Homo sapiens: one gene and its partner. The protein of the gene in region 1 interacts with the protein of each later gene in a pairwise test. Each region holds a gene or a part of one and is shown on either strand. Other genes may lie near its edges.

What was found. Proteins that work in one complex are often made in the same cells at the same time.
Region 2: the proteins of PDLIM5 (region 1) and NOD2 interact in a two-hybrid assay, tested with the Homo sapiens proteins (one large-scale study listed by BioGRID).

The regions. Positions count from the first base shown.
Region 1 is NC_000004.12:94,457,656-94,462,579, forward strand, and holds part of PDLIM5 (PDZ and LIM domain protein 5), read left to right. Parts: intron 1-4,924. UniProt on the Homo sapiens protein: May play an important role in the heart development by scaffolding PKC to the Z-disk region. May play a role in the regulation of cardiomyocyte expansion. Isoforms lacking the LIM domains may negatively modulate the scaffolding activity of isoform 1.
Region 2 is NC_000016.10:50,717,048-50,721,971, forward strand, and holds part of NOD2 (nucleotide-binding oligomerization domain-containing protein 2), read left to right. Parts: intron 1-2,877; coding exon 2,878-2,961; intron 2,962-4,924. UniProt on the Homo sapiens protein: Pattern recognition receptor (PRR) that detects bacterial peptidoglycan fragments and other danger signals and plays an important role in gastrointestinal immunity.

The DNA.
Region 1 (4,924 bases):
TGCGAATTTTGTGGTACCGTGTCTTTAAAAAAGTTTCATGTGCTTCAGTTTCCTGGCAGACAGTTTGAGGTACTAGCTCCATGTTGTGATGCTGATACAACAGAACACTGTGTACATACATATGTGCCCTCCCCTGGCACAGAAGAAATGCTTTCCTTGTGTAGACAGAGTGCTAATTAAAGGATTTTGAACATACTGATTAAAAGAGACTATGGTAACAAAGCTGCTGAGTTATTTCTGTTCTCTTACAAAAGTCTCTGCCATCTACTGTGACCTTTTTGGGCCTTGTGCAGTGGGGCATGCAATTCATTCTGGACTGGAGAGGATTGGAAGGGGAGGGGAAGGAGAGAAGGGAATGTTGGCTCAATCGGGCTGCTAGGCTCTTGGCCTTTCATTGTAGTTATTTTTAACCCCTTGTGTGGTTTAAATATGCCTAGTAACATTGCCTAATAAAGGTTTGCGTTTAATAACTAATTTATATTGTGGTAAGATTGTTAATGTTATAAATTTTTAACTTACTCTCATCTTAATTAGTTCTTTGGTTATACTTTTTCTGCCTTAATTATGTAAAATTACTGGGATATTACTGGTCATCAGGTTCTTTAATTAATAGTATCAAGAAACAATTAAAACCTGAAAGCATGCTTAAAACATGTAATTTAATGATTCACTTACTTTAATAATGCACATGAAATTCTTAGCAAGGTCTGGCAGTCTCTCAATTATCTTTTATAATAATATTATAAACTTTAAAAAGAAAACTATTTAGAGACTTGAAACATTAAATATTTAACCCCCGTAGTTGTAGGGAACATACAGTTATGGTTTTGTTTTGTTTTTTTAAACTTATTGTCCACTGAAATTAAGAAAGGAAAAAAAATCAGAAGTTTGTACTTAGCTGGGAATCTGCATCTTTAGAGTTCAAAACTGTGCAATTTTTCCTCTGATTAGGTATTATTATGTTGAACTCCAAAGGGTCATTTACATTCCTTTATAACACTGGAGCTCTGGTGTATCGAATTGTGTTATGAGATAAGCCACTAGCAGGGACTTGAACATTCCATTTTCTTTAGATTTTGTTGTATCAGCATGTGAATATGCTGAATACAACTTGTATCCTAAAGCATACAAGCTATAACATTTTCACGTTGGACTCAAATTTCTTCATCATCTGTATTGTATGAATTTTGTATACTGTTTTGTTGGTGGATTTCTAACATAAGATTGCCAGTTCCTGCTAGCTTTTTAAAAAGATCCTCAGGTTGCTGTAGCTGGATGATCACATGTCATTTAATTTCCGATCCTTAAAATGGAGTGCGGGCTACCTAAGTTTGCAGGCTGTCTTTTTATGATCCTGTGTTTATGGAATTGCCCTGAAGCCATGGAATGTGAGGATGGGTTTCATTGTAGCAGTGTGGGTTTGTTGGTTTTTGCCAGTATATTTTATAACAAGAAATAGGAGACTTGTTGGATAATTCAAGGCTATATTTTGGCCAGTTGATAAAGATTATATATTTGTGAGTAACATCTTTTAAGTTGTTATATCCTAAAGTTGAAATACTCTGCTGTGTGTTACTTTCTCATTATGTTTGGGCTCTTTTCTTCACTGTCAATATTTGGATTACCTGAAGATGATATCCCAATTCTCTGTAAACACATTTTAGATGTTTCTTTAAGAGATAAGAATTAGGTCAAACTTTTTAACATCTAAATAACAATGACTTTGATTCTCAAGAGTTAGGGGAGGATAAATTGTTATAAGCTTGGACAAAATTCTAATTGGATTTGAAAAGCAGAAGAAACTTACTATTGCTTGGATTATGGAGCCCTGTTTGGGAGTCTAACACAGAACAGAGAAGGACAGAATTGTGAAACACTTTGCTATGAATTCATTGATTCAGTAGTTATAGTAATACTTCCTAGAAGCCACTGAAGAAGATACAAAGTGGGGAGTACAAAGGTTGGATGGAAAAGAAATAAGCACAGTGCTATAGAACTAGACAGTGTCGTAAGACCTGTCACAAGTCAATATTCTATGAAATGACAGATTCTGATAAGTGTTTCTCAGTTTCAGTGGGTGTAAATCTTTTGTTTGTGGGGGTTGGTTTCCTTTAGGAGAAGTTAATTGAACTGATCCTCAAAGGATGAAATTTAAACACCTCAAAGTCAGCATTTCTCCGTGTTGTCCAGTGCCTAGTGAAGATGAAGACTTTTCTTGCCATTGCTTGACTCCAAGTAAAGCTGTGAATGTAGTTGAGCGATTCTCCAGACCTGCCAGCTGCAGTTTCCCTCCTACCGGAAGACAGAAAGACTTTCAGTCCTCAAGCTGAAATGAGAGAGCCATCCTACCTTGAATAAATGGGCCCATTGTTAATTTTAAGCTCTTGAGTATTTTCTTTTATATTCCCTCCAAGCTACCCTGTCATTATGCCAAGTTAGAAAATTAATTTAGTTTGTATAACTATATGATGTATATTTCACATGTGTGTTCACTCTGCTTTAAAAATATTAATTACCTTTTGTGTGAAGTTCAGAGACCTGTCTTTTCCCATGTGGCAGTTTTATATGTTTTGTGGTCACAAATGTCAGGAATCTCAATGTAATTCTGGATAAATTTTTCTGCTCTATGATTTGTAAAGAAATGAAAATCTTATATTTTTTAATTGAAAATTAGTAGTTTTAGAAAAAAACGCACTTATTTGATTTTAGTAAACGTTGGGCATTTTGAAAAGTTATTCAGAGAAATGTTACTGGTAGGCAGGACTTTTGTATCTGATGGAGGAAACCGATGTAGGGTTTGGATAAAATAAGACTAGCAGGCTGGGCACAGTGGCTCACTCCTGTAGTCTCAGCATTTTGGGAGGACAAGGTGGGAGGATCACTTGATACCAAGAGTTCAAGGTTACAGTGGGCTGTAGTCATGCCACTGTACTCCAGTCTGTGCCACAGAACCAGACCCTGTCTCAAAAAAAAAAAAGAAAAAAAAAAAGGTAAGAATAGCACTTTAGACCTTGGGAAAGAACGTTTTCATGTAACTATTCATCTACTCGTGAGTTAGGTATATCTACCTACTTAAACTAAGAATAGATAGATAATAGATAATGTACAGCTGTATATTGGAATGACTTGGATTTAAATCTTAGCTGGAAAATCAGTTCATTAATTTGAGCTTCTGATTTTCTTTGATGTATGGGAAATGCTTTATAAATTAAAAAGTATACAGGTAGATTTGATTATTATTAATAATTTGGAGCCTGTGAGCTTTCAATTTTTTTTAGAACTTCTGAGGCAAAGAGCTTTTCTTTATGATAGTTGCTAGTCACACTACATGTGAATACACAGTTGAACAGTGGTCTTTGTCTATGACATCCTGTTAGCAGTAGTTCTTACCCAGATTCCCATATACCACAGGACCAGTTATATCTTTTTCCCCCAGTTACAACTGTATTGAGGACAAATCAGTTATGATTTAGTTATTTCTAGAAGCAAACGTTGCTTTAGACAAAAAAGGAGTTATTTAGCATCGTATGAGAGAGAATTATGTTTCAACTTTGGCAGATGAGACTCTAGGCCTTTATTTCAGTATCTGAGATGCAAAAAATATTGAGTACGTGACATAAAATTTGACAAAACTAGATATTAGCATGTGAAATAACAATATGTGGATCTGTTTGCAAATAAATGACCTAATGGAAATGAAAAGAGAAAACATTAAGTAACTAAAGAGCAGTGACCATGGTGTCTACTGATTCTTTAGGTATTCTATGTGTTGGGCCACTATATAGTCTTGTTGAGAAGGCAGGTTTGGTTCCTTAATTAACAGAGAGGGAAAAATCACTTTTCTAGCGTACTTTGTTTTTATTAAGAGGTTTTTTTTTTAAAGGTAATAAACTAAGAATGGACAAAGCAGAGAATATTGAATGAGTATCCCCTTATTCCTTCACCTTTCTTATTTTTTTGTTTCCTGTTTAAGTATAGTTATCTACCCTTCTGTAAATACTCAGATTTCTTTTATAGCTGATGTTGTCACCCATTTTTTATGACAATTACTAGAACAGAGTTCACCAACCTTGTTGGCATTTAGTAACTGGACTCCCAACTGGGCTAAGCAGTTGTAGTAAATGTCCCTAATAGGCGTAAATAGAGGAGAGTAAAATGAACTGGAAATGTTAATAGGAGGGAATGAGAAAGAAAAAGTTAGATGAGAGAAAAAAATAAAGAGGACTTTTTAAAAGGCTGCAGCGTGTCACCCAGGCGGGAGTGCAGTGGCGCGATCTCGGCTCACTGCAACCTCCACCTCCTGGGTTCAAGCAGTTCTCTGCCTCAGCCTCTTGAGTAGCTGGGATTACAAGCATTCGCCACCATGCCCAGCTAATTTTTTTGTATTTGTGGTAGAGACAGAGTTTCACCATGTTGGCCAGTCTGGTCTCGAACTCCTGACCTTTGATCCAGCCACCTCAGCCTCCCAAAGTGCTGGGATTACAGGCGTGAGCCACTGCACCCAGCTTAATTTTCTTTAGGTAAGACATTCATATGGTTCAAAATTCAAAAGATACACGAGCGTATAGGGGGAAATGTCTCCTGGTGCCCTGCTGTTCATTTCCTCCTCCTGGAAGCCACCTGTGTTAGTAGTATACTTCCAGAGATAATCTATAGGTATATCTCCTCCCCACCCTCCTTTTAACACAAATAGTATGCTTAATAGAAATACTTTTTTTTTTGGCATTTTGTTCACTTAACCCAACATCAGTAAATATATCTTCATTCTTCATTCCTTTTTTACCACTACACTGTGTTTGGATTTGTCATAATTTTTTAAATCAGTTCCTATTGATAGACAATTAGATTTTTTTCTAGTCTTATGCTTTTACTGACACTGCAGTGTAAGTTTTGCCCATATATGTATATATATATGTGTAGACAT
Region 2 (4,924 bases), on another chromosome or scaffold:
GCCTGGCACTGCCCACACTGGCTCCTGACCTCCTGATTGAATGCAGGGACAGTGTCTCATTTTAAGCAGGGGTTCTCTAATGCTGTGATCTCCCCAGTAAACTCTGGACTAGCTCTGCTGAGGACTTCCTGTCTTTTGACCTTTAGCCCGTAGGGCAAGAAAGCTTTTCTAGGCCCCTTTCCTTTTCTGTGTCTAAGAGTGTCACAGCTTTCTGGGTTTACTGAGTTCCACGATGCATGTTGAGCTCGTCCTGGTGGGGGAGGCATACACAGTTACTTGCCACCCCAGCTGTGGCAGCGAGTTGCTGCAACACTCCCAGGAGGTCCTTTCACCACTCAGAGCATGCAAGGTTTGCAGTCCATCTGGTTCTGCATTTCTGCTACTCCAGTGTCTCCCAGTTTCAACAGGAGTCTCTCTCTCTCCTACCTGATGCCTTTAAATTGCCCCTCTAGCTGGCCGCTGGGTTGGCCTGGCTTCTCTCTCCTTCTCTCTCTCTCAGATATTCTTGCCTCCTGTGATTTGTGAGGCAGTAAAAAAAGACAAAGTAAAGAATTGCTTCCATCTATTCTTTTACCTCTTGGGCTGGGTTTGTGGATGGGAGCCGCCATTTTAAAATGGCGGGCCACATAGCTCAGTCTCGGCAAGGGCTACTGAGATCAGAACCACAGGTGCCAATTTGTACAAAGGACTCAGTCCTGCTACCACTGCCTGATCCCTCAGACTCACAAGCCTGGAATAGGCTGTGGCCAGACCTGGCTGGCCCATCCCTGAGAAGGGTGCTAGTTTCAGAAATGGAGGCTGAGTTTGTGGCCAACACAGTAGTCCTCCGGTATGTGCAGGAGAGATGTTCTAAGACCCCAGTGGATGCCTGAAACCATGGAGAGTATCAAGCCCTACACATACCATGCTTTTCCCAATACCTACACACCTGCAATAAAGTGTAGTTTATAAATTAGGCACAGTAAGAGAGTAATAGCAACTCATAATAAAATAGAACAATTATAACAATCAATGTACTATAATAACACTATGTGAATGTGGACTCTCTCCATCTCCCTCAAAATATCTTCTTGTACTGTACTCACCCTTCTTCTTGGGAAGATGTGTGGTGGTAAAATGCCTGTGTGATGGGAGGAAGTGAGGTGGATGACGCATGCAGCACTGTGCTCTAGCGCTGGGCTGCTGTTGACCTGACCACACTTCAGGAGGAGAATCATCTGCTCCCAGAGATCCCTAATCTTTGAGCAACAATGAGGTCGGCAGCTGGATGTCAGGAGCAGACGATCTTGATGATTACCAAATGGGAGCGTATAGAGCGTGGATGCGCTGGACGGGGGGCTGATTCACGTCCTGGGTGGGATGGAGCTGGATGGCACGTGATCAGAATAGCATGCAATTTAAAATGTATGAATTGTTTATCTCTAGAATTTTCCATTTAATATTTTTGGACTGCAGTTGATTTCAGATAACTGAAACCATAGAAGGCGAAGCTGCGGATAAGCAGGGGGCAGGGATTACCGTATATCATTGTAATAGAGAGCACAGGCTCTGGAGCCAGACTGCCCGAGGTTTGAACCCTCATTAGCTGCGTGACCTCAGGTCAGCCCAATGTCTGTGTGCCTCCGTTTCCCCTTCTGTAGAATGGAGGTAATAACCCTGGCTACCTCACAGGCTGTAGTGATGAGCAAGCAAGTTAATCCACATGAAGGGCTGCACCGTCTGGCAGGGGCTTTATATAGTAAGCGAGTGGCTGAAAGATGATGGGTAAATCACACAAGCACTCAGCTTGTTTCTCCTTATGTGAGTCCGGTCCTCCAAGCAGGGATTCAATGTGCCACCCATTTATTGGGGAAAAGTCCTAAAAGGGGAAGTGGGGAAGGGAGCTGGGGGAGGCTGGGAGGTGTGTCCCTGAGTGAAGGAGAGAGGGAAGGAAGGAAGGTTGAGACTGGGCACCTTGGACTTCAGTGCAGTCCTAAGACATCTTGGCAAGGCTGATGAGGAGTTCTTGAACCAAATTCACCAGGCAGGGGAGCCTGATGTCTCAGGCAGGGGCTGGCAAGTGCAGATGCGAGGATGTTAGATTTTGGAGCACAGCAGCTGGGGCCCTTGGCTACCTCCAAGGAGCTGAGGCTGGAGACCTGAAAGGCGAGTTCTCCTAGCTGCCACACCCCTTCTCCAAGGATACAATAATATCTGCCTTATAGGATTGTTGTGAGCTGAGTGGCTTGACGTTCCTTGAAAGAATGAAAGCGTATAGTTATCCCAGGAAGCCTAGGGTTGCAGGTGAGAGCTCTGGGGCTTCTCCGAAGCTCTCCGAGGTGTCTGGATTCAGTTGCAGCAGGAGCCTTCCTTGCTGGGATCTTCCCCCACCCCTAGCCTTGGCCCTCCCTCTCTCCTTCCTTTCTGGAAGGCTCAGTGGGCCCCACCCCTCCCTCCAGCCACCTGGACCTGCCCAGCGCTCTTGTGCAACAGGTAAAGCCTACCTGTAGCAACAACAGATCTGGGAAGGCTGCAGAGGGCACGATGGGGTCTGGATCGAGGGCGGCTGAGACCAGAGGGAAAGGTGTGACCCTGAGTCACCCTCGCTGTCCCGGGGAAACCACCTCCCAGGACAGCTGCCTACTGTGGCTCCTGCCTGGAATTGTCACACTGCTGTGCAAACAGCGTCCCGCTGCCCCTTTCCCTTTGCTGGGGGAAAATGAAGTTGTGGGAGCCGCTGAGTAAACTAGACCTAGCAGCGAGGGCACCTGATGTGGCTGCTGCCTCCCGGGCAGGTCTTCAATGCTTTCTTCCTGTGTTTCCCTGGCCAGGGCACAGACGGCCCTCCTTTTCTGCCTGCCGCTGTGTTCTCTCAGCCTCCTCTGTCTTCCCTTCCAGGCTGGGGAATAACTACATCACTGCCGCGGGAGCCCAAGTGCTGGCCGAGGGGCTCCGAGGCAACACCTCCTTGCAGTTCCTGGGGTAGGTTGGATTCCAGGAAGAGGGACCTGCATGGAGGGGCTTGGGACTTTTGAGGATTTAGGGGCAGGTGAAACTCTTCAGCCAGGAGGCCCCAGAGGCAGCCCAGCTCCAGTGGGGAGGACAAGCCAGGGAGAGAGTGGGCGGCCCTTGACTGCCACCTTCATACTTGGTCTATGCCTGACAAACAGGAAGTTTGGGATGTTGGGGCTAGGGGAGGACAGTGCCCACGAGCTGGTGACAGGAAGCCCTCTGATCCTCAGGGGGCGCTAGGGCTGTACTTTAGCTGCATATTAAAACCACCTGGAAGCTTCTAAACACTATTGCCAGGCCTCCCACCCCAGACTGATGAAATGCAAATATCTAGGTGCAAGGCCCAGGTATCAGGAGTTTTAAAAAGCTTCCCAGGGGATGTACAGCCAGGGGTGAGGACCCCTGACCTAAGAAAGAGAAGGAAATGGGGAAGGATAGGAAGGCACCCAGGATAAGAGGGGCTGTGCTAGGTCCCTCGGAGCTCTTGCTCCCTGTAGGACCATGCTAGGGCCTGCCAGGGAGGGGAGTACCCCAACCTGCAGCCCCAGGGTGGGCTTCCTCTGTTTGCTAGGCACCCAGGCTTGCACCTGTGCTGTTTCCAGCAGCCTCTCTCCTATCCTGTCATGCCCTAGTGTGAACTGGAGTCCATTTGACAAGAACTGGGAGTTTTAGAACCTGGGACTGTAGGAAGAGAGAATAACCTTAGGGCCTAGGTGTTCCAGCCCATTTCACAGGGAGGCAAGTTGCCCCCAAGCTCAGTTTTTTGTTTTGTTTTGTTTTGTTTGAGATGTAGTCTCACTCTGTTGCCCAGGCTAGAGTGCAGTGGCACGATCTTGGCTCACTGCAACCTCCGCCTCCTTGGTTCAAGCGATTCACCTGCCTCAGCTTCTCAAGTAGCTGGGATTATAGGCACCCACCACCACGCCCAGCTAATTTTTGTATTTTTAGTAGAGACAGGGTTTCACCATGTTGGCCCGGCTGGTCTTGAACTCCTGATCTCAGATGATCCGCCCGCCTCGGCCTCCCAAAGTGCTGGGATTACAGGTGTGAGCCACCGCACCCGGCCCCCAAGCTCAGTTTGAGCCACAAATGGGACTATGTTGCTCTAGAAATCAACATCTTTTCCACACTGCATTAGTAGCAACAGAGTCTAGAACAAAGGAGGCCACAGCCCCACTGAACTCTCTTCTGCTTGAGGTCACATCTGCCACATCAGGGGTATTTACCTCTTTCAACACATATTTATTAGGGCACCTGTCTGGGCCAGGCGTTGTGCTAAAACCCCCAAACGCTGTCATATGATACAAAGTGTTCTGTAACTTGCTTGGTTTTTTTTTTTGTTTGTTTGTTTGTTTTGTTTTGTTTTTGTTGTTGTTTTTTTTTGCTTCGCCATATATTATAGGAATTTTTTTAGGTCATTATGACCTCTTTATTTACTTAATTATCTATTTATTTATTTTACTAATATTTACAGAAAGGGTCTCACTCTGTCACCCAGGCTGGAGTGCAGTGGTTGCAATCATAGCTCATTGTAGCCTTGAACTCCTGAGCTCAAGTGATCTTCCTACCTCGGCCTCCTGAGTAGCTGGGACTACAGGCACAAGCCACCATGCCTGGCCGATATTTTTATGTTTTGTAGAGACGGGGTCTCACTATGTTGCCCAGGCTGGTCTCAAACTCCTGGGCTCAGGTGATCCTCCCTCCTTTGCCTCCCAAAGTATTGGGATTACACAAGTGAGCCACCTTGCTCAGCCTGACCTCATTTTTCAAAGAGCTGCAGAGTGTTACATAATGTATTTAACTGGTCACTTTTTGATGACTATTAAGTTGTTTTCAGGTTTTTTGTTATTACAGTGTCATATCCCTGGGGCACAGAGCAGTGCTGGCACATAGCCAGAGCTCAATCGATACATACCTAATGAATGAAAGTACA